Regions from separate parts of the Homo sapiens genome. Here region 1 is linked to region 2. The links come from fine-mapping of genetic effects on gene expression. A gene starts in region 2. The other region holds a variant in brackets. All regions are shown on one strand. Distances are from middle to middle. Region 1 overlaps CISD2 (CDGSH iron sulfur domain 2). Region 2 holds the start of CISD2 (CDGSH iron sulfur domain 2).

What was found. PIP is the estimated chance that this variant, and not a neighbour inherited with it, causes the effect.
Region 1: its variant is the best candidate, but not a certain one, in a credible set for the expression of CISD2 in whole blood (INTERVAL, PIP 0.82).

What each region holds. Positions count from the first base shown.
Region 1 is chr4:102,888,739-102,904,917 of GRCh38, forward strand. CISD2 (CDGSH iron sulfur domain 2) reads left to right here. Exons shown (of 3, transcript NM_001008388.5): 3 at 1-4,069. SLC9B1 (solute carrier family 9 member B1) reads right to left here. Exons shown (of 12, transcript NM_139173.4): 12 at 12,190-12,594. The coding sequence ends at 12,379. It also overlaps the pseudogene PABPC1P7. Among named protein-coding and RNA genes, the nearest start is that of CISD2, 28 kb to the left of the region's middle. The variant C/T (reference allele first, on the strand shown) is at 3,423.
Region 2 is chr4:102,859,951-102,876,156 of GRCh38, forward strand. CISD2 (CDGSH iron sulfur domain 2) reads left to right here and starts at 9,042. Exons shown (of 3, transcript NM_001008388.5): 1 at 9,042-9,237. The coding sequence starts at 9,135. It also overlaps a transcript of UBE2D3 not described here. RefSeq lists an enhancer at 8,493-8,632 and silencers at 8,863-9,152, 9,183-9,302.

The DNA of each region.
Region 1 (16,179 bases), 29 kb after region 2:
AAGGCCAGGCTGGGCAACCTAGTGCTCCGCCTCTGCTGGGCTCTGTAGGGAATCCTTTCTGTTGTAAAAGAGTTACCATTTAACTCCCTTCACTGAGTGCGTTTCTGAGACCTTGCTAGGCACTCTGGAAACTGCTTAGTTGAGAAAAGACAAATACAAAAGCTTTTCTTTAGTCTATTTAAGATACAGTTTATTCAGTTCACTTTGCTTTCTTTTTATAAGAATGTACAAGAGGCAGACAGAGGTAATCCTTCTAGAAATAAAACTAATTGTTATTGGGCACTTGTATGTACCAGACACTACACTAAGCATGGTACTTGGGTTTTTAATTTATTACATGTAATGTCAGTAGGTTCAATTATATGATCGTAACATCTTCATGACCAGCAGCATGTATTTTAGAGTTAGAAATGTAGTCTGGTTTTTGAGAAGTTTTACAAGGTGTATGTCCAAAATTGTTCTTTCCTCACATGTCAGTGGGGGATAAATACAGCATTGCTCTCACTTCTTTGACTCTGGGTGCTTTTTCGGATACATTTTCTTCAACACTGTTAAGGGGCCTCACTGTCAGATTAACCAATTATTTTTCCACAGTTGGTCACCAGACTTTGGAAAAAATCCACCTCACCAAAATTTTGGATATCCTGATCTGTGTTCATGAAATGCTCTTCTTTTTGTAAAATCTATCACTGCATCTCACAGCAACTTGTTTTCACACATGTTCTAGTGGTTCCCATAACTTAGATTTTACAGGAGGCAAATTTACTAAAAATGAGGAGACTAAAATGAATGACCAACTTTGAATTTTGTCAAATAACATTGAAAATGAATTATCTCATAAAAGGTAATTTTAATACCCCAAAAGTAAGATGGTTGTACTCTCAGAATAAAGACTTTTTCCCTGCCACATTTTCAGTTGTTAAAATATGCTAAGAGCTATGCCCATATCTTTTCCCACCTGTGCACATTTTTCAGAAGCGTAGGGTTGGTAGTAAGCTGTTGCTTTAATAACTCCTTTAAATAAGCATTATTAGCAGTTTGCATTACTTCTTGTAAATTTACACAATTTTATCTTGTCCATCTTTAAAAAATAGACATCTAATAACCAAATGTATTTGAATTGATGCAGTGTAAGTAACTTGTAGAACTTGAGGATAAGTGGTAAAAGAAAAAAAAAAGTAACTTGGCTCTTGAAATACATGTCTTCGGTTTCTAGAGCCTTCAAAATACAGCCCTGTTGTTACTGCGTCACATGATTGTTTTGAGGACTGCTTCTGCTTACCTAGGAAACTACTCATGCCTTACTCAGCAAATGAACATCACTATTACATAAACATCAGGTATCCAAAAGTGTTAGCAGGCTTGAGGTATGAATGATTCATTCATATGGGTAATTAAGCAAGTTGAATTATGGAAAGCACCTCACAATTCACACAATTCAGCTTTGAGTTCAATGCCAAATACGATGATTCATTAAGTTGACTTTGTATTTTGTAACCTAATTTGTTAATAAGTAAGTTACAGGAAGCCAATTAAGCCAGCTGCTGATCTATATAGTACTACCTTCCTCATTGTGATTCCATAGTCTTCCAATAGAAATGTGCTGTCAGAATCTGTATAGAGAGTTTGTAAATGCCACTATTTAACAAGGTTCTTAAGAATTTAGGTGGATGTTTTATTTGATACCTACCAAAGAAGCCTAAGTAATTGTATAATACTTAACCCATTTAGAATTCAGTTGTGGCAGCATAACCAATCTGGAGAGACCAGGGGAGATGTTACTAATGCTTGTACTTTATTCAGAAATGAGTGCCTCATTGGCTTGGTGCAGTGACGACACACCTGTAATCTCAGCACTTTGGGAGGCTGAGGTGGGTGGAGTACTTGATCTCAGGAGTACCATACCAGCTTGGGCAACGTGGTGAGATCTCATCTCTACAGAAAAATGCAAAAATTAGCCGGGCACAGTGGCGCACCAGTAGTCCCAGTTACTCGGGAGGCTGAGGCACAAGAATCTCTTGAGTTGAGGAGGCCAAGGTTGCAGTGAGCCAAGATTGTGCCACTGCACTCCAGCCTGGGCAACAGAAGTGAAACCCTATCTTAAAAAAAAAAAAAGTCTTTTTTTTTTTTCATCTAATCAAATTTATTGTGGCAGAAATCAGTACGAAGTTCGTAGGACAGGAGGAAACCAATATAAATATCTCAGCATTGTAGGAAATTTAACCCATGGAAAGCAGGGGTGAATTAAAGACCACTTTGAAGGCTGGGAAAAGCAGATAATTTAGATATAGTCAAAGTATGAAATCATTGATAGATCCAGAACAAGGAAATGATGTATGTGTTTACATATTACATCTACTTTATTAACAATTTTCCCTCTGTTAAACTAATATCGACTAATAGTAGTCTAGGTAAGTCAAGTTCAAATTAAGTGGTAATTGAAAAAGTCTTCTTTTTAAAAAATTTTTAATGGTAGAGGCAGCAGCTACCCAGAGTCTACTTATTCTTACTTCACATTGAATTCTAACAAGTTTGGTTATCTGATTTCTGCTTCTTAACAAATCACAAGTATCAAAAGGGTCTTGCAGAAGGGGTGAACTACAAAATGTGACAGCTGACAGCAAGTCAGGGGAACAAAAATAAATTTAAGGTGAACATTAAAGGCATAGCAGCTTGAGACAATTTATAGGATTCTGCATACAACTGTCTCTGAGGACATCACTGTGATCAAATTATACAAGTGATGTTTAGTGATGAATTGGAATCAAGATAAGTAGTATGTGTTATTCAAAAAGGCAGGATATGTGTTGCATTTGGTGGTAACAATTTCCCCTTAGCTATTTAGTTAAAAGCTTAGTGCTTAACATGTTGGAAAATTTATATGTAAAATATATTGACTTACTCGATGATTGGAGGCTTTATCACAGGAAGTTTTCCCATTCAATTGAAACATTTTTCAAGCTTAATGACTATAATTTACTACATAATTATTTATTTTGTTAAAGTTTGAGGAAAACTAAATAAAGCAGTAGCAATTTAAGTCATAATAAATTTTGTTAGATGACTTCTTCCACTTTAGGGGGAATTAAAAATCATGTTTAAAAACCACATGTGCAGCAGTTCTGTGACTCCCTCAACATCCGGTTGGCCATATAGTCCCTTTGCACCACAGAGGTTGGAGTATAGAATATGCCCAAAGCTGTTTTGTTTTGTTTTAACTATGCTTCATCATCTGAGGTTGTGTTAACATAGTTTGTCCTAATAGTCTTTTACTGGAAACTTGCTATATTTGATCATGTTCAGCAAGTAAACTAATTTTATCTACTTTCATATATTTTGAGACAAAGTCTGGCCCTGTCACCCAGGCTGGAGTGCGGGGGCATGATCGTAGCTCACTGCAGCCTCAGCCTCTTGTGCTCAAG[C/T]GATCCTCCCACCTCAGCCTCCCAAGTAGCTGAGACTACAGTCATGCTTCATCATGCCCGGCTAATTTTTTATTTTTCTAAGAGACAGAGTCTCACTGTGTTACCCAGGCTGGTCTCGAAGTCCTGGACTCAAGTGATCCTCCCTGCCTCAGCACTCCCAAAGTGCTGGGATTGCAGGCATGAGCAACCATGCCTGGTGTTTTATCTTTTGCAGAAATCCAATTTAGTAAAGTCATGTTGTAGCAAGCATCACTTTAATATAAAAAGTGTACAGCTTATATTATTAGCAATTGTACTGTTTAATTTTATATTAGTTATGGTCTTGAAGGACATTGAAAATCTGTTCAGAAAGACTATGTTTTTCAACCAGAGATGACATCACTCTAACTTTCCTTTGGTTTAAATGCTTGATTCTTCGCTTACAAAACTTCTGTTTTGAACAACTATGGTGAGAAAGTATATTTGTGATACTGTTTTCTTAGAACACTGTTGTCAGATAGATCAGCCATAATGTTAACACATTTCTGATCTCTATTATAAGGCTGTAATTTTCCAAAATAATACAGAAAAGGAGAAAAGGGTAGTACATTTCATAATTAGAGATAACCCTGTACTAGTGAGAAAATAAAAATGTCAAGTTTATTAAATTTTCAGATTTCCTGTAATTTTTCCATTACTATCCCTCATAAATTTCTCTGCATGATCACACTAAAGATATAAATTAATCACATCCATTCAACAAATTAAGAAACTCAAAACTCACAAGTACAATCTTCAACCCTATAGAATGCTACCAAGAAGTAAAATAAGATGAAGGTAGAAAGATTCTCTTTGAGGGCCAGGTGCGGTGGCTCACACCTGTAATTAATTCCAGCACTTTGGGAGGCCAAGGCGGGCAGATCGCCTAAGGTCAGGAGTTCAAGACCAGCCTGGCCAACATCGTGAAAACTCGTCTCTACAAAAATATAAAAATTAGCTGGGCATGATGGCGGATGCCTGTAATCCCAGCTACTCGGGAGGCTGAGGTGGAAGAATCGCTTGAATCCAGGAGGCAGAGGTTGCAGTGCGCCAAGGTTGTGCCATTGCATTCCAGCCTGGGCCACAGAGCAAGACTCCATCTCAAAAAAAAAAAAAAAAAAAAAAAAGAAAAAGAAAAAAGAAAGATTCACTTTGAAATGCTGCATGCAACTATTTAGCAACACATTGGAAAATCTAGAGAAAATGGGTAATTTTCTGGAAAAATATAAATGACCAAAACTAATCCAAGAAGAAATTTAAAATGTTAATAGACCAGTTACAAAGAAGAGAATGTAAAGTGATTTTTTAAAATCCATAATTTAAAAAGTACTAGGGTTGCAAGAAGGATAATTCCAATGTTATTTAAAGTATCCCAAATTTTTTTTAAAAAGAAAAACCAATTCATTTCACATAGGCAGTGCAGCATTAATATGAAAACCTGATAAACATAAGACAAAACTGTAGGCCAGGTGCAGTGGCTTACACCTGTAATCCCAGCACTTTGGGAAGCCAAGGTGGGTGGATCACTTAAGGTCAGGAGTTCAAGACCAGCCTGGACAATATGGCGAAACCCCATCTCTACTAAAAATACAAAAATTAGCCTGGCATGGTGGTGCATGCCTGTAATCCCAGCTTGAACCCAGGAGGCAGAGGTTGCAGTGAGCCGAGATCACGCCACTGCACTCCAGCCTGGGTGACAGAGCAAGTCTCCATCTCAAAACAAAAAAACAAACAAAAAAACCAAAACTATAGACCAATCTGACATACATATGAATGAATATTCTAAATAAAAACCCAGCACTGTTATCAATAATTGCAACAACAAAAAAGAGTAATACAGTATGCAAAGAGCACTGTATTTCAGGAATTCATGGGTATTTCAATATCAGTTAAGTATATTAACACAATTACATAAATGACATCAAAGAAGAGAAAAATGTGATTATATCAATAAATGCTGAGAGGGCTATTGTTAAGATTAAACATCCACTCCTAATGAAGATTCTTGAGTAAAATAGAAATTGAAGGAAAGTGTCTAAACATAACCGTTATTTATGAAACGCCTACAAAACAAGTATTTTAAATCATGAAACAACGTTTCAATTAAAACAAGGAACCAGTAGGAATAGCTGCTGTCATTATTTGTTATTAAAGATTATCTTGGAGGATCCATGAATGTAACAAGATTTTTAAATGAAATAATCAGTATAAATATATAGAAAACTTTTTGTGGATATGATTATATGCCTAGGAAATCATAGAGATTAGGAAAAACAGAAATTTCAAATATTTTAAAGAGGAATATTGGTAAGTTATTTGGAAATAAGATGATAATACAAAATATATTAGCAATAAGCACCTTGAAATGCTAGTGGTAAAAATATTCACAATAACAAAAATAATAAAGGTAAAATAAATTTACCAAGAAAGGTAGAAGATCTATAAGAAAAAAACTATAAAAATGTTACCAAAAGCTACTGAATAAGAAACACATGAGGCTAGGCGCAGTGGCTCATACCTGTAATCTCAGCACTTTGGGAGGCTGAGGCAGGAGGACTGCTTGAGCCCAGGAGTTCAAAACCAGCTTGGGCAAATTGTGAAACGCTATCTCTAACCAAAACAAAAAGCTAGTTGGGCTTGGCGCATGCTTATAGAACCAGGTACTTGGGAGGCTGAGGTGGGAGGTTGGGGCTTCAGTGAGCTGAGATCCCACCACTGCACTCCAGCCTGGGTGACAAAGTAAGACCCTGTCTCAAAAAAACAAACAAAACTCTTGTAAAAACATAAATCTAAAATTATATATAAATTCAATTAAATTCACATTAGAATCACAAAAGCATTTTAAAATTGGATTAAATTATCTTAAAGTTCATGTAGAAGAATAGTCAGAAAATTGTTCCAAAAAAAAGACTATTGAGAGGAACTTTTCTCAGCAGATATCAGCACCTACTATAGAACTATTGGAATTGATCAATTAAGAAAAACAATTGTATTAAGAATAAGCAAGAGTGGTAAAAAATTGAGAATCTACATGTAGATGAAAAATTAATATATGAAAATAAACAATTCAAAGAAAACAAAATTGGACCCTCAATTTACACTGAAGGCTTTGAAGTGACACATAAAATGATTTTTTAAATGATTTAAATACGTACATAAATGGAGACAGGAAGGGTGGGAGAGAAGCAGAAGAGAAAGAAAATAGAAGACTAAAGAACAGGAACACCTATGTGGAAAAAGGTAACACTTAATGACAAAATATGTTTTATGTGAATATCAGTTATACATAATAAATATTGGGGACATTGCCTTGTGGGTTATAATAAAGCATTAAGAAACAGAGTAGTGAACAAAAAAAGGAAAGAAAACTACCAAATTCCATGTATGATACCCCATTTTAAAATTACATAAATTAAATGTGTACACATAAGAAAATTTTAAACATTAAAATTTTGTTAATAAAACAGATTTGATAACACGAAGGCCAATGATGACCTTACCCACAGCAGTTTTGTTTAAATGGGGACTAAGGATGGAGCAAAATTTTTAGTAGAGCACTTTGAATAATGAATTAGCAAACTATAATAAACTGAAATCTTACCTACCAAATAATCTCAGTAAACAAATCTAAAAGAAATGAGTAAAACAATTGTGAGCAAAAAAGGATAGAGTCACTACATATAATGTAAATGAGACAAGGATGGCCTCTGTGTATTGGTGCCTAGGTTATTTCTTCACAGCAAGCTGAGACCCATTAGCTCAAAAGCCAACTGGCAGCAAACTCAAATTTTTAAACATCCAATTGTGTTAAACATTGCCCAGACATGCAGATTTGTAGGCATTTAGAGCCTGCCTGATTTACATGCCCTGGGAAACTGTGTCCAAAATCTGCCTGCCACAGATAAACCCTAGGCTGTAAAGACCCCAGGCTGCTTCTGCTCTTTGGAACTCTGTGAACTATAGACTCCATGCCATGCTGCTGAGTGATATCACTGAGACATGAAAGCCTCCTCTCTGATCCTTTCCTCCCTCAGGAGTTCCTTTGCCCTCCTCCCCTTCTGAGTGGTGGCCCCCTTGCCTCAATCCTCTGGTCCATCTCTTGCTGTGAAGGCCTTCCCCAGGATACAAACCTGACGAGATCATCCAGATAAAGCCCATGTGTGCTTCTGTCACATCTTTTTCTATATTTTTCTCACTTTTTTCTAAACTTTTCTAATTTTTTCTTAATTTTTATAAAATTGTGGATACCTAATAATGTAGTCTCAAAATAAATAAAGCCAAAATTAGAACTGGAAAGAGCAATAAAAAAATCCACAAACATAGTGAGAGATTTTAACAATTCATTTTTAGTAATTGAAAAAATAAACACTGCACAAACTTCCCGAGGCTCCACCCCGTAATCCCAGTGCACAGGTGGGCATTATTCAGAATCAGTGGGGAAAGGGCGGCTTCAACCAGGACCCGCAGTCCAGTTTATCTAACAGCCTTCAGGCTGTTTTAGTCTTGAAGGTGGGGTTTTACCGGGGGACCCTTGGTTGCCTCCTGTCTCTATCACTTTCACATTAGGTGCTTTGTGGTGAAAATGGTTTCAAGGGTGATGGCATTGTACATATTGAGACACAGAAGCAGCTGAAAGTTCTATTAAAAAATGAAATGGATGCTTCTAAATGACAGCAAAGTCTTTGTTGGATTAAGTCTTGTAAACAATGAGAAGCAGAACTCAGAGTTAAAAAGTTCACCAATGTTTACAGGAAGATTTTTGGAGAAGACATGGATGGTAGGTGCCTTAAAGATCTCTTTGGCAAGTTGGGATCTGTCTTAAGTGTGAAAGTAGTGGTTAATGAAAGTGGAAAACCCAAAGGTTTTGGATTTGTCAGCTTTGAAAGGCATAAAGATGCGCAGATGAGATGAACAGAAAGAAGCTCAATGGAAAACAAATTGATGTTGGTCAAGCTCAGAAAGAAGTAGAATGGCAGATGGAACTTGTGTGCAAATTTGAAAAGATCAAGCAGTATAGGATCACCAGATAACAAAGTGTTAACATTTATGCAAAAAATCTTGATGGTATTGATGAATGTCTCTGGAAAGAACTTTCTCCACTTGGTACAATCACTAATGCAAAGGTTATGAAGGATGGTTGTCACAACAAAGGGTTTGATTTGTGTATGTTTCTCCTCTCCAGAGGAAGCAACTAAAGCACTTTCAGAAATGAATGGTAGAATTGTGGGCACTGAGCCATTGTATATAGCATTAACTCCATGGGAAGAAGAGCAATGAAGAGCACCAGGCTCAGCTCATTAACCAGTACAGTATGTGCAAAGAATGGCAAGTGTAAAAACTATGCTCAACCTGGGAATCAGCCTCTATCAGCCAGCACCTTCTTCAATTTACTTCATGGTAGTTATCCCACAGACTGACAGCCATGCTGCAAAGTATTCTCCTAGCCAAACTGCTCAACTAAGATCAAATCCTCCCTAAATTGCTCAGGGTGCCAGACCTCATCCATTGAAAAATATGCCCAAGCCACTCCTAGCTCACTACATTTAGTAGTAAGAGACCAGCTTCTTCACAGCTTCCACGAGTCATGTCAACACAGCTGTTGTAACACATCAACACAGACAATAGGAGCACATTCTGCAGTTGCCGCTACTGCTACTACAGATACTCCTGCTGTTTGCACCATTTCACAGTATAAATATGCTATGGAAGTTCACAATCCTCAATGGCAGTTTCATGCACAGCCCCAAGTTACCGTGCAGCAGCCTGCTGTTCATGTAGAAGGTCAAGAACCTTTGACTTCCATGATGGCATCTGCTCCTCCTCAAAAGCAAAAGCAAACGAGTGAATGGCTCTTTCCTCTTCTTCAAGCCATGCCCTAGTCGTGCTGGTAAAATCATTGGCATGTTGTTGGAGATTGGTTATTTAGAACTTCTTCATATGCTTGAATCTCCAGAGCCTCGCTGTACTAAGGTTGACAAAGGTATAGCTGTACCACAAGACCACCAAGCTAAAGAGGCTGCCCAGAAAGCAGTTAATGGTGCCACTGGTGTTCCAATTATTTAAAACTGATCAGGGACCACAGAAAGAAACTTGCGCATCACTGAAGAAAAAATCTCAATATCAAAAACCTTAAATACTATGGAAAAAATTTGTAAAGTATAAAATAAATTTAAAAAGGAAACTTTGAACTTTACATACCAAGCAAACGTCAGATCTAACAAATGCAATGATAGTCCTAGATTACTTACTGATTTGAAAACAAAAAATCCTCCCAAAATAATAAAATATAAAAATGCTGCAATGCTTTTCAGACTCTGTGATAAATAATTTTCAGCAAAGTATAAAAATTTAAAGCATTCCTTTAATTTTGTAATTCGTTAGTGTGGAATAGCTCAGAATGTCACTTCTGTTTTAAGTAACAGAATTGATAACTGAGCAAGGAAAGGTAATTTGGATTATAAAATTTTGCTTTAATAAAAATTCCTTAAACAGTGAAAAAAATAGGCAAAGATACAAAAAGTTGATAAGAAACAACAATCTTGTATTTATTTGTTATTTTATTTTTTTGAGACGGAGTCTCGCTCTGTCACCCAGGCCGGAGTGCAGTGGCGTGATCTTGGCTCACTGCAACCTTTGCCTCCCAGGTTCAAGTGATTCTCCTGCCTCAGCCTCCCGAGTAGCCGGGACTACAGGCACCTGCCACCACGCCTGGCTAGTTTTTTGTATTTTTATTTTTTTTGTTATTTGTATTTTTGTATTTCACCATGTTAGCCAGGATGGTCTCCCTCCCCTGACCTCATGATCCACCCGCCTTGGCCTCCCAAAGTGCTGGGATGGTGTGAGCCACTGTGCCCAGCCTTATTTGTTTAAATACTATAAACACTAATATCATACACATGGTTAACTGGTTGTAATTTTTAAATTATATTAATAAATTTTTATAAAAACTTTTTATAAATAAAAAACTTAAAATTTCAAATAAATAACAACATCTGCCACACCACCTTAAAAGGGCGACTATTTCAGTATAATAAACATATATCACAGACACTTAGAGAAAGTTCAATAAATAAAGAATAAAAAGAATAGTTACAACAATTTTCCTCCTAATCAATAACACAATTCCTCATTTTGAAAATTATTTATCTCTCTTTTATTAAAATAAACTTTCTACTTTGAAATCTAATCCTCTTGTGAATGTAAAATACTATCTTGTAAATATATATATATATATTTTATTATTATTATTTTTTGAGACAGAGTCTTGCTCTGTCTCCCAGGCTGGAGTGCAGTGGTGCGATCTCAGCTCACTGCAACCTCTGCCTCCTGGGTTCAAGCGATTCTCCTGCCTTAGCCTTCTGAGTAGCTGGGATTACAGGTGTGCGCCACCACACCTGACAAATTTTTGTATTTTTAGTAGAGACGGGGTTTCACCATGTTGGTCAGGTTGGTCTCGAACTCCTGACCTCGTGATCTGCCCATGTCGGCCTCCCAAAGTGCTGGGATTACAGGCATGAGCCACAACACCCTGCTTATATTTTTATTTTCTTGTAAGTGACAATGAGATGCCCTCATGATTTAAATAGTAGTCAAAACACTGGCACAGTTTAAATTTTTAGAATTTGAGTACTAGAATTACAATATTTGAAAATGGAGTCTGTACTTTGTTGTAAAACTATAAGGAGAAAATGTCACTAAAATAGTAGCTATTTTATCTTTTCCCAGAGTTATTCTCCCAGAGTGTATTTTCTAAGAGTTATTTCCCAGAAGGTTTTAGAACTTCTGGCAGTTTCGGTGATATATTCTGTAAAAGCCCTTAGTCTTAATAGGAATAACACATAGTTTTGATTGCCTTAAATTTTAATTGCTTCACTTGGCAAATTTATGTGTAAATGTCATATTCTGTGGTATTTTAATACCTTGCTTGTGGAGAAGAGGAAAAAGAGGAATGAAAGTAATATTCAGTCCTTGCATTGAGCTTTTGCCAAAGAAGTCTAAACAATTTCTAAGATGCCATTCAATAAGGCCATTTTAGAATCGTTTATATGACTCTTATAACTTTAAAATAAAGAGTCTTGAAGTTAATTAAAACTCACTTTGCTTGTGATGGGTTCTACATTAACATGGCAGATTTAATCAGCCAGAATTAAAAGGTAATTCTATATTACTAAGGAGAAGAAACTGCCACATGACAGCAGTCTCCAAATCTTTCATTTTTGGAGGCTGCCTTTTATGCCTAGATTTTAAAATACTAATTGAAAAAAATATAGTTTACTTCCATTTGTGATTTAATTTTATTTCTATAAATAAAAATATAGATAGTGTTTCATCTAAAAACTGCTAAACCAGACTTTCATTTTAAGGGCATGGCAGAAGTAAGGAAAGACTAACTTGGTTCTATTACTGAACATATTATTTACTCAGGTAGTCACCAAAACCAGAATTTAAAATCTATTTAGTTAACCCATTTAAAGTTGATGTGTTTTATTCCTTTTCTTTCTTTTTGTGGTGATCTTTTTAACTGAATTACTGGACATCATGGGAGTTCTACTCCTTCTATTTGGAAACTTAGGCTATCTTACCAAGTTCAATATTCAAAGTTTTTCTTTCTGCCATTAAGTTTGTTTAATTTTATATTAAGCTCAGTTTGTATTATGATATCAAATTCAGCCTGAGGGATTACTTTAAACTTTCCTAGGGTATTTACAGATTTAATTTGTTCTTACAGTATGTAAATACCAAGAGAGCATTCCATTTAATATTATTTTTATTAAATTAACTTTGGAGTAAAAAGTCCAAGAAAAGCCCTGTACTGAAATCACATGTTTACTAAATCCTGGATTCTCTGTACAGTCCCCACATATTTCTACTTTAAAATTCTTCTGTCATGTGAAATAATTCATTAAAAGAAGCAGGCAGATGATGACAGGTAAACTTTTTAATGATGTTCTAATGTTGACAACTGCAGTTTTATTTTGCTTGGATCATAATGGCGTGTAAGCATTTTAGGCCCCAGAATGCCCATAAGTAGAGCTCCATTTGGAGCTGTGATCAAGATGGCTAAAAATGCTACTGTCATCACATCCTTCGCATATGGTTCCAAGTGGGGTGCGGAGACTCTTGCTGTTTCTAGAGCCAGAGGACCTAACACAGCCTGCATTTAGGGGTAAAAATGGGGCATAAAGAAAAATATTAAACTGAGTTGATATATAATGTAAATGGCTCTGTTAAAATAAACAAAATCTAGTACTAGACTATTAGAAAAAAAAAGTACTCAGTAATTTTCATAAGTTACTCATCAGTTCCATGTTCTTCCTAGCAAATATATGTGGAGGAAGAGTACAATAGTGACAAATCAGCAGGCAAACATTTTTGGGCTGATTTTGCACTCTTGTCCTCTCAGTGTTCCTCTATTCGAATATCTCTTTTGAGTGTTCATGTTGCCCTCATAACACCAGGAGTTCTAACGAAACCAGTTTTGCTTAGTTGCCTTTACCGTGTGCAAGTGGTTCTTGACTACAACAAGACAACATAAAATACTAAGGTTTCTTATGGTTCTCTAGGATTTGTTGCCCTTCTTCTCATTGTTCTCCCTATTCAGGGGGCACTGTGTTATAGCAGAACTGACAGCAGGCTTGGAATCTAGCAAACCGGGTTTGAATTCTATTTTTGCTGCAACCAGGCTAGTGACCTTGTACAAATGACTCACACTCTCTAACCTTCTACTTACTTATGTGTAAAATGAAGAACAAAATACTTATCTTACTGAATGGTTGTGAAAATTAAATATGAGAATGCAAAGAACAGCTGGCACACAGTAGGTATTCAGATAGTAGTAAGTTTCTCTCTCCCTCACTCCTCATGCCCTGCCAGGTCAGAGAATGAGTTCCTTTGAAGTTTTCGTTTTAGAATGACTGTACTGGGTCACAAGTTTTTTTCCCTAGTCACCTTCTACCACATTATTTTTAATAACATAAAGCAAATTTCTTGCTAACCCTCTTTCTTTGTGTTTAATAATCTAGGCATGAAATTGCCTTAAAATTTTGGGGAATTAAATACCAATATATAACATATTTTCTATGGAGTTGCAAAGTAACAACATAATGGTGGAAACATTACCTCTGATATGGAACATTATGGCAAAAGAACCCCTCAATTTAAGATCAATTTCTATATCCTAAATCAATAATTTAAAATGGTATCATTTTTATATCGTAACTTTTAATGTACTGAACGTGAGCCAGTGTGCTGGAGGATGCTAGGGAGAAAAAGATAATCATGCAGAAAACCAACTTGAAAGAATCTTACAGTTTAGAAGAGGATTTGAACATAAAAGAACTTCCAACAGAAAAAACAAAAAACAAAAACCAAACCCATTGACTTTTAAGAGATGATTATGATAATGGTGAAACTAGAAATAATATTTATATAGTTATATGGCATTCATCATATGGCAGGTATCATTCTTAAAGCTTTCCATTTATCAATTCATTTAATTCTTACGACAACCTTATTATGTGAGGACTTTATTAGATGATAAATGATTTCCTCCTAGTGACTGAGATTTAATATTATTTCTTTAAAAGAATCCAATTGCCAAGCTGATCTTACATTTGTAAACTAAATTATTTATTTACTCTCCTAATAGCTTCATTTTTCCACTCTAATTTTTATCAGTAACTCGAAACTGAAGAACAAGAGAAAGAGCTGAACCTTAGCCAATTTTATGTTAGCAGCAGAGAACGGTGGAAGAGGATAAAGGTGAAAATAATTTAAAATTGAAATTTAAATATTTGTTGATCTTATTTACTTGTGACATTATCGTTATCTATTATTGCTGTTGTGACTCTACTTGTATAAATAATTAATTTTTTATGTCTTGCCAGTTCCTGGAACCAGCTTGATATTCTTTGTGTAGAAGCTAGCCTGAAGCCAGCAGACAGGAATAGGCAGAAGCAGAATAATACTGCAGGACTCGAGTGAGTGGTCTCTTTCCTCATACCTGCTTTTCTTTTTTCCCTGCTTTATGAAAATTATGAAATAATAAAACAAAATTGCGAGAGTATTGTTGGAAGGAGAGAGAACAGATACTCCTTTTGTAGATTTATTATTCCCTACAGTAGACATTAAAAATAAAAAGTTATTATTTATATTACTTGAAGGTAAGATAAAATAACAACATTGTTAATTGAGCACCACCATATGCCAGAGAGAGTGCTAAGCACTTTACGTGGATTATCTCATTGAATCCTGACAACACTGCTAAGAAACAGATACAGTCATAGACTTCATTGTAAGATGAGAACACTGAAGGACTGAGAGATTAGAAAATAATTTTCCTGAGGTTATAGGCAAGTAACATGGTATTCAAAACAGGTAGTCAGGCCCTATGAACCTGCTTTTCTAACATGATAATAGAGGTTTTTTTTGCATGAAAATTTAGGAGCTTCTGTTTTGGAATAACAACTAAGAAAAGAGCCACAGGAAATTAAGGTATATTATGCTGCCAAGTTAAACAGTCTAACAATAAGTAGCAATATATTTTAGGAGGAGGAGAATATCCTTGAATAAGAGGGCAAAATTACAAGGTTTCCCTTTCTGTTCATTCATTCTTGCAGGCATGCAATACACATTTGGCTCCTGCATGTCAGGCACTGTGTTAAGTGCCAGGGAGAAATAATGAAAAACAACTGCAACAACCAGACACTGTCCCTGTCCTTACGTAGTCTATCAAGGGGGCAGGGGCAGGGATTTAGCCATTAACCAAATAGAATACAAATAAATGTGTAATTAAAAACAATAAATGTGCATTTGTGTGATGGAGTGAGTGGCAAGGTAGGAAAAGTATTTTTTAAAAAATCAATGTGTCTCTATTTTACTTTACTTTTTTTTTTTTTGGAGACAGGGTCTCATTTTGTCACCCAAGCTGGAGTGAAGTGGTGTGACCTCAGCTCATTGCAGCCTCAACCTCCTGAGTTCAAGCAATCCTCCTGCCTCAGCCCCCAAGTAGCTGTGACTACAAGTGCGTGCCAACACACCTGACTAATTTTTTTGTATTTTTTGTAGAGACGAGGTTTTACCATGTTGCTCAGGCTGGTCTTGAACTCCTGAGCTCAAGTGATCTGCCTGCCTCAGCCTCCCGAAGTGCTAGGATTCCAGGCATGAGCTACCATGCCTGGCCTGTGTCTCTACTTTTTAAAATCATAACATTTAGCTTTGTTATATTCAGCAAAATATAAAAACTCCAATTTTCAGATATATTCTTATTATATATTTTAGGAAAATAAAAAACATTTTCATAAACTTAGGAAGTACTTATTGAAAGAATACTTTTTAATTTCAAAAGAATTGCTTTTAAAACTGAGATTTAAAAAGGTTACATTGGCTGGGCCCAGTGGGTTATGCTCATAATCCCAGAACTTTAGGAGGCTGAGGCAGGAAGATCACTTGAACCTAAGAGTTCAAGACCAGCCTGGGCAACATAGCAAGACCTCTTCTCTACAAAAAAATCAGAAAAAAAAGACCAGGCGCAGTGGCTCATGCCTGTGATCCCAGCACTTTGGGAGGCTGAGGCGGGTGGATCACTTGAGGTCAGGAGTTTGAGACTAGCCTGGCCAACGTGGTGAGACCCCATCTCTACTAAAAATACAAAAATTAGCTGGGTGTGGTAGTGTGCACCTGTATAATCCCAGCTACTCAGAAGGCTGAGGCAGGAGAATCGCTTGAACCTGGGAGGTGG
Region 2 (16,206 bases):
TTCTCCTGCCTCAGCCTCCTGAGTAGCTGGGACTACAGGCACCCACCACCACTCCTGGCTAATTTTTTTTGTAATTTTAGTAGAGACGGCGTTTCACCATGTTAGCCAGGATGGTCTCGATCTCCTAACCTCATGATCCACACGCCTCGGCCTCCCAAAGCACTGGGATTACAGGCGTGAGCCACCGCGCCCAGCCAGAATTTGATTGTTTAGTGGTTTCTTTGTTGAAATTCTCATTTGTTCATGTATTGTTTTCCTGATTTCGTTTAGCTCACTGAGATTCAAGGTGAGTGTTCTGAATTCTTTATCAGGTAATTTATAGGTCTCTGTTTCTTTGGGGTCAACTGCTAGAACTTTAATTTGTTCCTTTGGTTGTCATGTTTTCTTGGTGTGTGTGTGTGTGTGTTCAACTGCTAGAACTTTAATTTATTCCTTTGGTTGTCATGTTTTCCTGGTGTGTGTGTGTGTGTGTATGTGTGTGTGTGTGTGTTCTTTTAAGCCTTGTCTTCTAACTTTGCATCTGAAGAAAGAGTCACTTCCTCCAGTCTTTACTGACTAGCTTCAGAAGGGAAAGACGTTCACCAGTCAGCCTGACTAGAGATTCTGAAGGTCTCTCAGACCTTTTCTATGATATGCCCATTCCATTCCTCTTGTTCTGTCTTGGGAGGGGAAGTCTTAGGATTGTGTGCTTTCTTTCAATCTCACAAAGCTAGACTATGTGCTGAGAACCTCCTTTTATTTTCTCTAGTGCAGTGCCTCAGAGTGTTCAAGGTTGTGTGCTTTCTTCCAATCCAGCAGGAGCCAGTTGCTGATATCTGTGTGCTATCTGCTGGGGCCTGCATACACTATCTGCAGGGGAGGTTGGGCTGCTGGCTAGTGGGTGGGTGCATGGAGTGCTGGGTGTGCTTGTCAGTTGAGGGGTTCTGCAGGTGAAGTGTCCTGTAGGGCTCATGGGTGAGCCTATGGTGGAGTCTGCAAGCCAGTTAGGAGACTCCACATCTAGCTCTGAAGAATCATGTGTTGGTTGCTATAAGCCTCTGCTTCTTTTCCCTTCTCCTAGATATTCCTAGACTATTCATCTGTGAAGAGTCCCTCAGTATTCTGGATAGGGAAAAACAGAAGTGAGCCTTTTGGGCGGCAACACGCAAGGCTAGGGAAGCTGGGCACTCACTTGACTCTTACTTTCCTTCCTGGGAGAACTCATGGGCCAAAAGGGCCTCTCTTGGCACTGAACTCTGCTGCCTTGGAGGAGAAGGATGTAGGTAAAGTGAAACTGTTTTTCTTACCCTCTTCAATGTGTCTATTCTTGAGTTTTTCATTCTACTGGGGTGCTGGAACCTCTTAGCAGGTCTCCCAGGCTCCCAAAATGGTATTTGGTATTTCTGCAGGGGTTTGAGGGCTGGAACCTACTAATCCACCAACTTGCTGATGTCAGTCAGGGTGCCTTTAATCTGAATAGTATTATTTCACACAGAATGCTATCTCTGAGTTTAGTAGCTCAGAGGCAAAATATAAACAGTTAAATATATAAAGTAACATTATTAAATCTCACATTTATTCTGTGCACAACTACAATATCGCAAAGCATTATGCAGGTTCCTTCTTCATGCCTAGTTCATCGGTGCTTGGAGTAGCTAGTTCCATAAACTTCTGAGGTAATAAGAATCTGCCTTGTTATTTTATTATTTAATGACTATATTTATAGATTACAGTAACCATGGAATTTCTAAGGCAAAAAAGATGGCTTCCAAAATAGCAAAAGAAACTTCAAAGATCTATGGAATTAAGCTTTTAATTATGCACATATGCATATACAATTATGTATATCATATATGTGCTTTGTAACCATAATCTTTTGTCTAGTCAATGACTGCAAAAGTGGTATGTCAGTATACACTTACAGAATTATAGAAAAGAGAAGCTTTCTTCAGAGCTCACTCTATTCTATCATGTGTTTGCTTGTTTATTTATTTATTATGGATTGACTGACAGGGTCTCACTCTGTTGCTCAGGCTGGGGTGCAGAGGCATAATCATACCTCACTGTAACCTTAAACTCCTGGCCTGAGGTGATCCTCCCACCTTGGCTATATAGATAATTCTATATACTGTTAGTTTTTAGTACCACAAAGTGTTATGGAAGGTGATTTCAAAATAGTTTCGCCATGTTATTGATTTATAGATCCCAGTTTTGTTTCTTTAGTTTTCCATTTATTTCTAGTTTGCTGGACTTCCTCTTAAAACTGTGGGGTTAAGGCAAGGCAGTTCCAAATGTAGTTCCTCATACACAAAGGGGAAGTAAGAACACCAAACACCAAAATCAAAATGTTCTAATAAAAAAAGTTTATCTCTTTAAAATGTTGAATAGACAGATTTAATAATAATTCTTTTTTTAAAAAAATTGATTAGTTTCTCATATGATAATCATTATTTTAACCCCAACCTATAGTCCACTGTAAGTATCCTTTTAATTTGTTAAAGCATATTAGTTGTTCCATTAATTTCATCTACTTTTCCAATCCATCAATCTGTGATTCCTTTTACCTTTCTCTTATTTTGGGTTTCTTATACCTTGATCAAATGTCCTACTTTTTCTTAGTTTATTCCTCATTTAGGTGGAACACATCCTCTATTAGCTTTCTGAGAAGAGAATGCGTAGATTGTGTATTTTTTAAACCTTTTAGGTTTGAAAATGAGTTTATTGTAGTTTCACAATGGGTTCTTGGTTTGGATTGGTATAGAATTCTAAATTATAGGTAGTTTTTCTTCAGATATTTTAAGAATTGCCCTTTAACTACCAGAGCTACTGTTAAGAAGTCCAGTACATTTAACTTTTGTAGTATGTGTCTCAGTCTGTTTGGGTTGCTGTAAAGGAATACCTGAGGTTGGGTCATTTATTTAAATAAGAGGTTTATTTGGCTCATGGTTCTGCAGGCTGTACAAGAAGCATGATGCCAGTATCTGCTTCTTGTGAAATCTTCAGACTGCTTACACTGAGGGCAGAAGGCAAGAGGAACCCATGAATACACAGTTCACATGGTGAGAGAGAAAGGCCAGAAGTGAGGGGTATGGGTATGCCCAGGCTTCTTTGTTTTTCTTTGTTTTTTTTTTCTTTTTTTGAGACAGAGTCTCACTCTGTGGCCCATGCTGGAGTGCAGTGGCACAATCTTGGCTCATAGCAACCTCCGTCTCCCAGGATCAAGCGATTCTCCTGCCTCAGCCTCCCAAGTAGCTGGGATTACAGGTGTGTGCCACCACACCCAGCTAATTTTTGTATTTTTAGTAGAGATGGGGTTTCACTATGTTGGCCAGTCTGGTCTCGAACTCCTGACGTCAGGTGAGCCACCCACCTTGGCCTCCCAAAGTGCCGGGATTACAGGCGTGAGCCACCGAGCCCGGCCCCAGGCTCTTTTTAACAACTACCTCTCACAGGAGCGAACAGAGTAAGAACTAATTATCACAAGGACTATACCAAACCATTCAGGAGGGAACCACCCCTATGACCCAAACACCTCCCACTAGGCCCTACCAACAACATTGGGGATCAAATTTCTTTTTCTTTTTTGAGACAGTCTCACTCTGTGACCCAGGCTGGTTGCAGTGGTACAATCTCAGCTCACTGCAACCTCCATCTCCCGGGTTCAAGTGATTCTCATGCCTCAGCCACCTGAGTAGCTGGGGTTACAGGTATGTGCTACCACACCTGGCTAATTTTTGTATTTTTAGTAGAGATGGGGTTTCACCATGTTGGCCAGGCTGGTCTTGAACTCCTGGTCTCAAGTGATCTGCCCAGCTCAGCCTCCCAAAGTGCTGGGATTACAGACGTGGGTCACCGTGCCCAGCTGGGATCAAATTTCAATATGAGACTTGGAGGGGTCAAACAAACCACATCTAGAGAAAGAGCTCCAGAAATCTGCATGGGGTTCCTTAAGCATTTTATATTAGTAACAATCTTACATACTCAATAGCCATGTTATTAGTATTGACACATTACATAATTACATTGATCATGTAGATCTAGACCAACCACTGTGAAAAAAACAAGGTGCAGCTAATAATAAAAAAGATGAGTTGATAATGAGGTAAAAAAAATGATGAAGATGAAATATCATACTAACTATGCATGTATATGTGCCAGGTACTGTTTTAATTGCTATCTATGTCTTAATTCAGTGAATATACACAACACAACCTTAAGATGTAGGTATTACCTACATTTTTACAGGTTATATAATTTATCCTAGTAGAATCAGAATTGTAGTCTAAACAGTGTGGCTCCAAGAGTCTACAGTCTTAACTATAATGCTGTATGTAATTCCTTGCAGTAAGTAGACAGTAGTAGTGTTTTGTTATATTGTTATTAAATGCCCTTTCTTGACCAAATAAAAAATTGGCAAACCTATCTTGACTTCCCAATTTATCCAGGAATGGGCTGACAGAGCAGAAAAAGACAGGGTTTCAAAACTAAATCAAAGGATGTTTAGTGGCAGTAAAAATGTACCAGAATGTGAGATTGTGGTCACCAGTAAAATTGCTGAATTTAAGGTCTGAAAGCCAGAGTAAAGGGTCATTCATTGATGGTAAAGACGATAATGATAATAACCATTCATTGAGTATATTACAAAATTAATTGTATCTAGTCATAACCACTGGTATCACCATATCAAAGAGAAGAAAACTGAGGCCCTAATTAATTTTCAGTAAAAAGTTAAGTTTTTCATACAACTTGACAAGAGGACTCTGAAATTCATAGAGTAGTAACAAGGCCAGGCATTCACAATGCAATTTGAAGAAAACAGGTGGGGAAGCTTATCTTGCTAGATATTAACACTTACTTATATAGTTGTAGCAATTATGACAGTATGGTATTGTTATAGAGGTTATACAAATACAGCAATGGAAGAGAATAAGCAACCCAGGATGTGTGGAAACCTGATTTGAGATAAGTGACATTACAAACCACAAAAACAAGTTTAACTCTTCAATAAATGGTGCTAGAACATAGTTGTCTGTATGTAAAATAATAACAAATGAGAGTAGATCCCTTTCTCATGCACAAAAAGTAAGTACTGGGTTGAGTAAAGCCCTAATATGAAGAATATAAGTTTAAAACTTTTAGCAAAAACACAGGTGAATACCTTTGTGATTTAGGGGTAGAAAAAGATTTCTTAAACAAGACTCCCAGAACACAAATTGTAAAGAAAAAGATGAATAAATTTGACTACACCCAAACCAAATTTCAGTATAAAAACAGACATACACGGCCAGGCACGGTGGCTCACGCCTGTAATCCCAGCACTTTGGGAGGCAGAGGCAGGTGGATCATGAGGTCAGGAGTTCAAGACCAGCCTGGCAAATATGGTGAAACCTCGTCTCTACTAAAAATACAAAAATTAGCCGGGAGTGGTGGCGGGCGCCTGTAGTCCCAGCTACATGGAAGGCTGAGGCAGGAGGATCACTTGAACCTGGGAGGCAGAGGTTGTAGTGAGCTGAGATCGCGCCATTGCACTCCAGCCTGGGCAACAGAGACTCTGTCTCAACCAAAAAAAAAAAAAAAAAAGACATACACTAGGAGAAGATAAGCAACAGGAAAAGATAAGCAACCAATGTAACCAACAAGGTAATATTTTCCAGAAAACATGTACCAGTGAAACTGATGAACAAACCAATAGCACAGTGGGCAAAGATGTCAAGAGCAGACTAGTAGGCATTTGGAATTAGACTCCTAGAATTAAGATTAGCCTAAAGAAATCTGGGCTGGAAATAGAGATTTGGGCTATATCTTAACGATCATATTTGAATTTGGGGCACTGGATGACCTAATGGGAAAAAAACATGAAAGAAATAAAAGTCTTGGGCCTAGCTAGGACAGGCAGAAGATGAGTGATCCAAGCTCAAGTGCTTGAAAGTAAATAATGACTCCTTTAACTGTATTTACATATTTATCTTGAGTTTTCTGACCACAGTTTCTTTATGTCTTTTAAAGATGGAGTCTAAAAACACTATCGCATAAGGTGGTCAGATAAGCCTATTACATCTATTTAGAGCAATATTATCTTTAGACCATGTTTCATGTGCAGCCAAGAAGGCAGGGTTGTGGAAATGAAATACAAATATAAATGAAAACAGGATTTAAATTTTAAGTAAAGGGAATTTAAGAAAATATTCCTTTTAAGTGGATAATAAGGATTTTTAAATTGGTGGAGTTAGGAATTATCTCCTATTACACATTCGCATAGCTCATGTAATGCATCAGAATACCTAATATATGATCCACACCTTTTCTCTGAATTTCAAGGCCTCCCAAAAAAGTTTTATCCATATAGACTTGCATTCACTACATTTTTTCTACTTGAAAATAGCAAACCAGCTATTCACATAAACTGCTAAGAGGAAGTAAGCCAACCATAAAAAATTACATACTGTAAAATTACTTATATGTGAGGGTCAAAAACATGCACAGCAATACAGAATAGTAGTAATGGTGGTGGATGTGGTTGGAAGGGTCGCTTTTTAAAAACGCCTCTATTGAACATTCTGTATATTGATGTGGGTGGTGGTTACCTGGAACTGTACATTTGGCATTTGAGCATTTTACTATATCTTTAAATTGAGGTATGTATTTTTTAATTCTTTAAAGAAAAACTGCTTGGAGGTCTTATTCTTAATGCACAACAATCACAAACATTAAATTTATACAGTCCAGAGAATGTAAAGTTGCTTTAAAAAAATTCTTTCCTTTTCTCACTTTAAAATACCAAGGGGAAAAATTAAACTCAACACAGCACGTCTTGCCCTTGTCAAGATGACAGATCCTCTAAGAGAAGAAACGAATAGGTAATGGCCTTTTCCAGATTTTCTTTTCCTAATGTACCCCACTTCCAACCTACCCCTACCTCAACTAGGGTATCTAGTTGTACCCAAGGGTGCTTCTACATTAGATCCACAGAGATTAAAGATAACAGTTAACAGAATAGTCCAGAGGACAAGGATATTCAAGTTCCATCATCTTCAGGATAAAAAAGCTCCAGGGTTTACCTCCAAACTCTCTCTAAAGGAAATCCCATCAACCTTTTAAACATCACTTTGTATACACCATCTTCTATACTGCCCTAGCTCAAAAACATGAACCTGTATCTAAACGTGTTTGTAGAATTTCCATTGTAAGTTTTACTTTAACAATTTTGAACAATTATAATGATAGAAAATTATTTAATCTAGATTTTGGTCAACTCTATTACTGATATTCTTTTTTAGTGAAGGACAATCACAAACACTAAATTTATACAGTCCAGAGAATGAAAGATTGCTTTAAAAAATTCCTTCCTTTTCTCACTGTAAAATAAAAATACCAAGGGGAAAAATGGAAAGTATTTATTATAACTGGCTGTTACACTGTCATACACAATGAAATACTGGACCATTAGCAGTTCGTTATTATATGTTGTTAAGTGTAGAACTGTAAATAATGAGGCATATTATTAAGATATCACACACATTATCCAATCAGCAAGTGCACAACTTCGGACATTTTGACTTCAGCCAAAATATGAAACAAAGTCATAGCAAGAAAGTTATTTCAAGGGAGTGAAATTTTCTCCTCTTACCCTTCAAATCTTTTAGAGATATTAATAAAAACAACTATCCAGCCTGGGCGATATAATGGGACTCCATCTACATACACACAAAAATTTTTAAAATTCGTTGGGTGTGGCAGCACACGCCTGTAAACCCAGCTACTTGGAAGGCTGAGGCAGAAGGATCCCTTAAGCCGGAGTTAGAGTCTGCGGTGAGCTATGATCTGACCACTGCACTACAGCCTGGGCGATAGAGCGAAACCTTGTAACAACAACAACAACAACAAAATTAAAACCTTCAAGATCAAGCTTGCCCAACAGGATGGCTTTGAATGCCACTCAATGCAAATCTGTAAACTTTCTTAAAACTTTATGAAAAAAAATTTTTTTTTAGCTCATTAGCTACCATTAGTGTTAGTGTATTTATGTGTGGCCCAAGACAATTCTTCTTCCAGTGTGGCCTAGGGAAGCCATAAGGACCCCCTGCGCTAGACTTCAGCAGAAGCCTTGTAACATAAAGAAAACCATACATAAGGCTTTAGATTCTTTTTTTTTTTTTTTTTTGTGACGGAGTCTTGCTCTGTCTCCCAGGCTAGAGTGCAGTGGCACATTCTCGGCTCACTGCAACCTCCGCCTCCCTGGTTCAAGCGATTCTCCTGCCTCAGTCTCCCGAGTAGCTGGGACAGGCACCTGCCACCGCGCCCGGCTAATTTTTCTATTTTTAGTAGAGACGGGGTTTCACCATCTTGACCTGGCTGGCCTCGAACTCCTGACCTCGTGATCCACCCGCCTCGGCCTCCCTAAGTGCTGGGATTACAGACGTGAGCCACCGCGCCCGGCCAGCTTTGGATTCTTTTACCACTTTCCCGAAGGAAAAGGAACTGAAAATATCTAAGGAAGGACTACTACGAATCTTCTCTGAGTGGCAAAAACCAGAGGTTTTTGGAGCTAGGGCTGCAGTTAAGTTGCCAAGGGGCAGAGATGTAAACAGTTCCTGGTTTAGTTAAAATATTTTAATTTTTATTTTTTTAAGCCTGGCCTTTGGGTGAAGGAGTAAAATTAGGCACTGGGGTCTGGGTAGGGGGAGGATACTCATGGGCGAGTATGCAACCCTAGGGCCACAGCACCCAAACTGTAGGGGAAGAGGCGGGGCGAGAGGGGACGAAGTAGAGACAGCAAGAGACTCACTTTTGAAAGGCACTTTCGGTTAGAAAGCATTCTCACATGCTTATCTCATCGCACACAGTATCCTTTCTGCTGGTCTCCAGCATCTACAGACGTTAAAGGCCCAAGAGGAGGGCCACCTTCACACGAGATTCCGAGGAGGGCCTCGCTACCCGCCAGTTCCCGCGCCTCGGCAGTCCGCCGCGAGCGTACGTCACTCGCCCGCCGCCAATCGGCGCCCGGCAGGTCACCTCTCCTCCCAGGGCCCGCCGCCCCGCCCGCCGCCCAGGCCGAGGCCGCCAGTGCCCGCCGGCCGCTTCCGCTCCCGGCGCAGGCGCGGCAGCTTGGCCAGAGCGGAGGGGGCTCGGGAGAGGAGTGGACGCCGCTGGCCAGGATGGTGCTGGAGAGCGTGGCCCGTATCGTGAAGGTGCAGCTCCCTGCATATCTGAAGCGGCTCCCAGTCCCTGAAAGCATTACCGGGTTCGCTAGGCTCACAGGTAATCCTCCCCCATCAGCCAGTCCCCATCCTTGCACGTTCGCCAAGCGGGGGAAGGAGGCGTAAAAATCCTAGGGCCAAGGGGCGGGACGGAGCTCGGCGCCTGGCACGTGATCCCCGCGCGCAGAGGAAGGTGGGCGCGCGCCGACGCAGCTGCCTGGGGAACGCCTGTGAGGCAGTCTCCGGGTGCTTGATGCCCCAGGGTCTTTTGTCCTCGGAGTTGTCTCCGGTGTCATTCCGTGGCAAGATACCAGGTTTTTGCAGAGAAGGTGCTGAGTTGGGAACAGGCCAGTCTCTTTCATCTCCTGTCCTGCTCATCGCTCTCTGTAGCGTACTTGTTTATTTTAAAGCGGGCTAAGTCGTCGTTATCTAAGGCCTCATGTAACAGGCAGCCCCAGCTACCGGCTGGGTTGTACCCTCAGCATGTGGGTGGGAGTGTGTGGGAGAGAAATATAGACTTACACGTAACACGTATATGACCGTTTTATTTAGTAACGAAATTAGGAGATAACCTCCATTCCCTCAGGTTAGAATTGACCTATCATAGGTGGCATTTGAGGTCATCTCCGTTTCTACGGTCCCGGGGCCCGCTGCGGTAACTTAAGTTGGAAGAAAGATACCTTACCCAAGAAAGTATTCGAAGGCCGGTATGAGGAGTGAAATCTTAGAAAATGAAATTTAGTGAATATATGTAACGTTCTATACTTAAGGACCCTCACTTAACCCACACAACTCATGAGGATTTCACATCTAAAGGATGAAAATCTCCAGAATGCAGTCAACACTTGGGAGATTGTGTTGAGTTATGAGCATTTCATTGTAAGGGGGATATTTCTAAACGGAACTCAGACCGAGTAGGATGGTGAAGGAATCAGCAAGTATTGAACTCCTATGTCCTAGGTTATCAGGGAGTGCAAACATGAATTAAGATAATTCTGAGGTAAATAGGGTTGCTTCGCCGGGAACGTTCTAAAGATCTGTAGTACCTGACCTAAAATACAGCAATCGCACAGCTGTCTGGTAGAAGAAAAATAAGATTTGTGTAGACTAAAATATAGAACTGATAACAAATTAACCAAATTAGTGAAGGTTATTGGGAGGTGAATTTCAGTCTAAGGAAGATTTTTTTTTAAATTAAAGAATGCTTTCCCCAAACAAATGTGGTGCTTCAGTGATAGCCCCTCTCAAAGATGAAAAAAACAAACAAAAAGACTCTGGTGGTGGGTGGTCGATAGATTTAGAAGGGATAAACTAGATGACAAATTCTCTTCCAAATCTAGAGATTCATTGAATTATGGTCAGACAGACGCTCTGTTGAGTGGATTGTGAGATTTTAATATTTTTTAAATATTAAGAGTTTTAGTAGAAAACATGCAATTGAATAGAAAGCATGGTAACAATAATAAACATTAAAAAGGAACATTAAACATCAGAAGCAATGCAAAAGTAAAATAAAATGAAAAACGTTTCACATCAAGTGTTTATAAACATCAGATCTTTTGATCCTACCAGTTTACTCTGACAGAATTGCAGCAATTCCATAAAATTTTGGCTTTCCCCACTTCTTTTACTTAAGTACTTTACATATTTTAATATAATCCTCATTTTTTCCCTAACAACTAAATACTTATTTTAGTTTTAACATCACAATGGGCCTAACCATTCATTCCCTTACAACTGGAAATTAGAAATGTTTCTATTTTTTAAAATTCATTATGTAATAGTTCATTGGCAAGTAAGCAAATACCAGTTGTCATATTTCTCCCTTTTGGATGTCTTCACTTAAATAGCAATACCAGGCCAAAACGGTATGATCATATTGTGACTTTTGTACCCTTTTGTCATTTTGACATTTGTACCTTCTTACTAATTTGCATAAGTTAACTGTTGAGGAATTTTTAACAGTCAAGAAAGGAAAATGTCCAATGAATTACCTATGTTTTTTCCAGATGGTGGCTGCATTTGTATTAGTTTCGATTCTCTGTAAATCAAGTATAATTGAAGAAAATTAGAAAGTATGAAACTAGATTTAATGGCTAGATTTTAGAAGTATGCTTTCTTTTCTTGAGGATCCCTAGTGTCAACAAATATTTAATTCCTATTAAAGACATTAAGAAAACTCAACCAAAACCTTTTCTCTCTTAAGAATATATAGTAACTTCCTCTTAAAAGTTGTTAAATATTTAATATGAAGACTGATTCTCAGAAATAATGACCATTCTGAGAAGTATTTTAATAACATACATTTAACTTAAGTCCCATTACAGTGTGGCTATAGTTAATAGTTCTCATTTTATTGCTGGTTTATTTAGGAAACATGAACATGCTTGTAATAACTGGTTTATGAAAAACATGAGATAGCCCTTTTTGGATTGGACAAAACAATTGCAGGGTTTATTTTGGAGTACTATAGAAGAAAAATTTCAGTGGCTATTTTCCACTCTCGGTCTCCCATTCTGAATAGATTGTAACAGTTAATGACATTTGGCTTTCTTAAATGAGTTACTTGTAGAATCCATAATGTACACTTTTGTTAAAATAAAAACCTGGAAGACAACTTTTTAGCAATTGTTTAAAATGTCTAGGAGACCAAAAAATATTTCCATTTTCTTCTATGAAAATTAGAGCAAAAAACAATACAGTTCACATTATTATTGCCTACATTTCCTTCCCTATTTAAATCTAGCTGTTTTTTAAAGCTATTGACTCTCTTATGATGACTCTGCATTCTTAGAAACCACATGGAGATCTTTAATGACCATATACTAGTTAAATACAGGCAGTTCTCACCTATCAGAAACAACTTAACTATCTTTGTTTATGTCACATTTTCAAGAGTGAGGCGTTCAAGATAAATTACTGTGATTATCTAATTTATGTTTAACTTAGGTTTTTGTTTTGTTTTGTTTTTTGAGAGGGAGTCTCTTTTGCCCACACTGGAGTGCAGTGTCGGCTCACTGCAACCTCTGCCTCCTGGGTTCAAGCGATGCTTATGCCTCAGCCTCCTAAGTAGCCGGGACTACAGGCATGTGCCACCATGCCTGGCTAATTTTTTGTATTTTTAGTAGAGACGGAGTTTCACCATGTTGGCCAGTCTGGTCTTGAACTCCTGACCTCAGGTAATCCGTCTGCCTCGGCCGCCCAAAGTGCTGGGATTACAGGTGTGAGCCACTGCGCCCAGCCCTACCTTAGGTTTTAAGTGGTAATAGTAAACTCATGCATTGAAAATATTTTATCTTTTCTACAGTTAAGAAATAGAAATAATTTCTGTGTTTAGCTACATATGATAAATGAGAAAATATGTTATAAAATAACTAGCAACCAAGCTGCCAGTATTATTTTTATGGTATCATAAGATGATATGGCTATATTATATGTAGATGTTTGAAAATTTGAAATGGAAAAATTCTGTTCTAGTTCTGTGGAATGTAATTCCTCATTAAGATCGGAGTTTGTCTATGTCATTTTTATGTCATTTTATGTCATTTTTAGCTATTATTAAAAAATGTTTTAATAATAGTATTTATATGTCATAAGGAATAGGTGTCATAGCTAGCCTGTGTCACTATATATAATAAAAGGTTAAACCTAATTTTGTTTCCCAAAGAAGATACTTCATTTTGACAATGTCTAAACTTTCAGAAAATTTATGCTAAAATTGGTAGCTACCGTATTATTCCGTTTTCATACTGCTATAAAGAACTACGCAAGACTGGGTAATTTATAAAGGAAAGAGGTTTAATCCACTCACAGTTCAGCATGGCTGGGGAGGCCTTAGGAAACGTACAATCATGGCGGAAGGCGAAGGGGAAACAAGGCACCTTCTTCACATCATGGCAGGAAGTAGTGCCGAGCAAAGGAGGAAGAGCCCCTTATAAAACCATCAGATATCATGAGAACTCACTCACTATCACCAGAACAGCATGGGGGATACCACACCCATAATCCAATTACCTCCACCTGGTCTTTCCCTTGGCACGAGATTATGGGGATTATAATTCAAGATGAGATTTCAGTGGGGACACAAAGCCTGACCAAATCAGCTATTCAAGTTGCTTTGAAATTTTCTTTTCTGACTAGATTTTGGTTTTCTTTTGTGAGAAAGGGTTTCACTCTGTTGCCCAGGCTGGAGTGCAGGTGGCATGATCTCTACCCACTCATTGCAGCCTTGACTTCACAAGCTCAAGCCATCCTCCCACCTCAACCTCTTGAGTAGCTGGTACTACAGGTGCACGCTACCACACCTGGCTCATTTTTTTGTATCTTATTTTAGAGACGGGGTTTTGCCATGTTGCCCAGGCTGGTCTTGAGCTCCTGAGCTTAAGCTATCCACTCACCTCAGCCTCCCAAAGTGCTGAAATTATAGGTGTGAGGCACTGTGAGTGGCCTAGATTTTGTTTCTCTGATGGTGCTGGTTCTTTCATTCTTCCTTTTTGGTCCTGTTATTTATCTTAATAGTGGGATACGTGGAAGGCTGAGGCAAGAGAATTGCTTGAGTCGTGGCACTACATTCCAGCCTAGGCAGCAGAGCGAAACCGTCTCAAAAAAAAAAAAAAAAAAAAAGGGATGTAAAAGTCAATATGTATATTAGGTCCTTGCTCAGTATTGAGCTCAATAAGAAGATGAACAACTCACATTTAAAAATTGGCAAAACAGGCCAGGTACGGTGTGGCTCATGCCTTTAATCCCACCGCTTTGGAAGGCTGAGGCAGGCAGATCACTTGAGGTTGGGAGTACGAAACTAGCCTGGCCAACATGGTGAAACCCCGTCTCTACTAAAAATGCAAAAATTAGCCGGGTGTGGTAGTGCACACTTGTATTCTCAGCTACTCAGGAGGCCAAGGCAGGAGAATCGCTTGAACCCAGGAGGCAGAGGTCACAGTAAGCTGAGATCGTGCCACTGCACTCCAGCCTGGGCAACAGAGTAAGACTCTGTCTTCAAAAAAAAAAAAAAATTGGCAAAACAGAAAAATGAACAAAATCTTATCCTTTGCAGCAATATGGATGCAGCTGGAGACCATTATCCTAAGGAGATTAACACAGAAACAGAAAACCAAATAACACATATTCTTACAACTGGGAGCTAAACATTGTGTATTCATGGACATGAAGATGGCAACAGTAGACACTGGGAACTGCTAAAGGGGAGGGAGGCAGGAGGTCAAGGGTTGAAGACTATTGGGTACTATCCTCACTACCTAGGTGGGAGGATCAGCCATATCCCAAACCTCAGCATCACACAATATACCCATATGACAAACCTGCACATTTACCTCCTCAACCTAAAATAAAAGTCGAAATTATATTAAAATATTTTAAAAAGGAAATTTGGGCACACACAAAGGGAGAACACCATGTGAAGATGGAGGCAGAGATTGGGGTGATAGACCTACAAGCTAAGGGACACCACAGCTTCTCCCTCAGATCCTCCAGAAAGAATCAACCATGCTGACACCTTGATTTTGGACTTCTCGCCACTAGAACTGTGAGTGAATACGTTTCTGTTGTTTTAAGCTAAAAAAGAAAACGAAAATGCAAGCACGAACACATTGTTCTCTGCAGTTTAGGGAATCCTAGTAGAGACTACTGCTCACATTTGTTCTCTCTTCTCTGCTTTAATGGCCACTACCTTAGTTTTATCTCAAACTATTTTCTTCCAGACCATTTCCATGGATTTTCAACAGGTTGTCTTGCCTTGTCTTCTTCCACTAGCCCTCTCTGCTATTCCTGTGGCCCTCTAATCCATCTTCCATCTGATACCAGAGTGACTTCATAGGTGAACAATTTCCTAGTTAGGCTAATATTCAAATATTTCAGTGGTTTCCTATTATGCACAGGTTAGATTCTTACTTACCTGTTGAATATCAGAGTTTGTCATCATACGGCACCTGCTCAGTTCTACAGCTCCCTTTCATTAAATTCTAACAATACTATGGTGCTTAGTTTCCCAGACACTTAATGCATGTCATATCTCCGTACCTTTGCCTATGCAGCTTCCTCTGCATGGAATGAAGCTCCTCCTCCCATATTCCCATGAACTTCTGTACTCTTCATCTTTCAGAAACCTATTTAAGTATCAAAACCTGTACAGTTTTTGCTCATGCCAGTAAAAAGTGAATAACTTGTACCTCTGCGTTGCTTCTGTATTATTGCTGATAGTACACAGTATTATGATCGTCTTTTATAGGTCTGTCTTCCATACTAAATGGCAAGCTCCTTTCTAACAGGGAGTGTGTTTTATAATTTTTGTATCTTCAGTACCTGTCCCACCACCTGATACATGTGAGTGAGGTATTACAATTTTAGAAGGTGCTGAAAGTTTTTTTCTTAAATATTTTAAGTAGTCTTCCTGTATTTTAACTTACACTGTCATTATTCATAAGCCATGAACAAAGACAAGTAAGTACAGACCTTGTAGGAATTATCTCAAATGCCAGTTTATTGGAGTACAAACTCAATTAGGCTAAAACTTACTGAGGTCTTGGTTTATGTAAGTCTCTGTTAAAGGGTAGGGAGTTAGGGATTTTTTGTTTAGTTGGGGAGGAGACAAATATTTACCTAACTATATAGTTTTAAGGCAGAATGCATTAATAGTTTGAATTGTGTTCTGTAGTTTTTACTGAGTGGGTTCCTACTTCATTCGTTTCTCCCAGCAATCCTATGAAGTTAGAAGACTCTTTACTTTTCTTTGTGCCTTGAAAATTCTGCGCTCAAGTGCTTGAGCTCCTGGCTTCTCATTCGTTAGGTCTCTGCTTAAAGGTTCTTTTTTCAGAAACCTTCCCTGACCCCTTACCTAAAATTGCAGCCACCCTACTGCTTTGCCCCAGGTTAGTTTTTCTCTTATGTCATCCTTTATTTCCTTTATAACAGTTACTATAGTCTGTGATCATCTTGTTTATTTGTTCACTTGTTTATAGTCTCTGTCCTCTGAAATATATACCCTATGAGAGAAGGGACCTTATCTATTAGC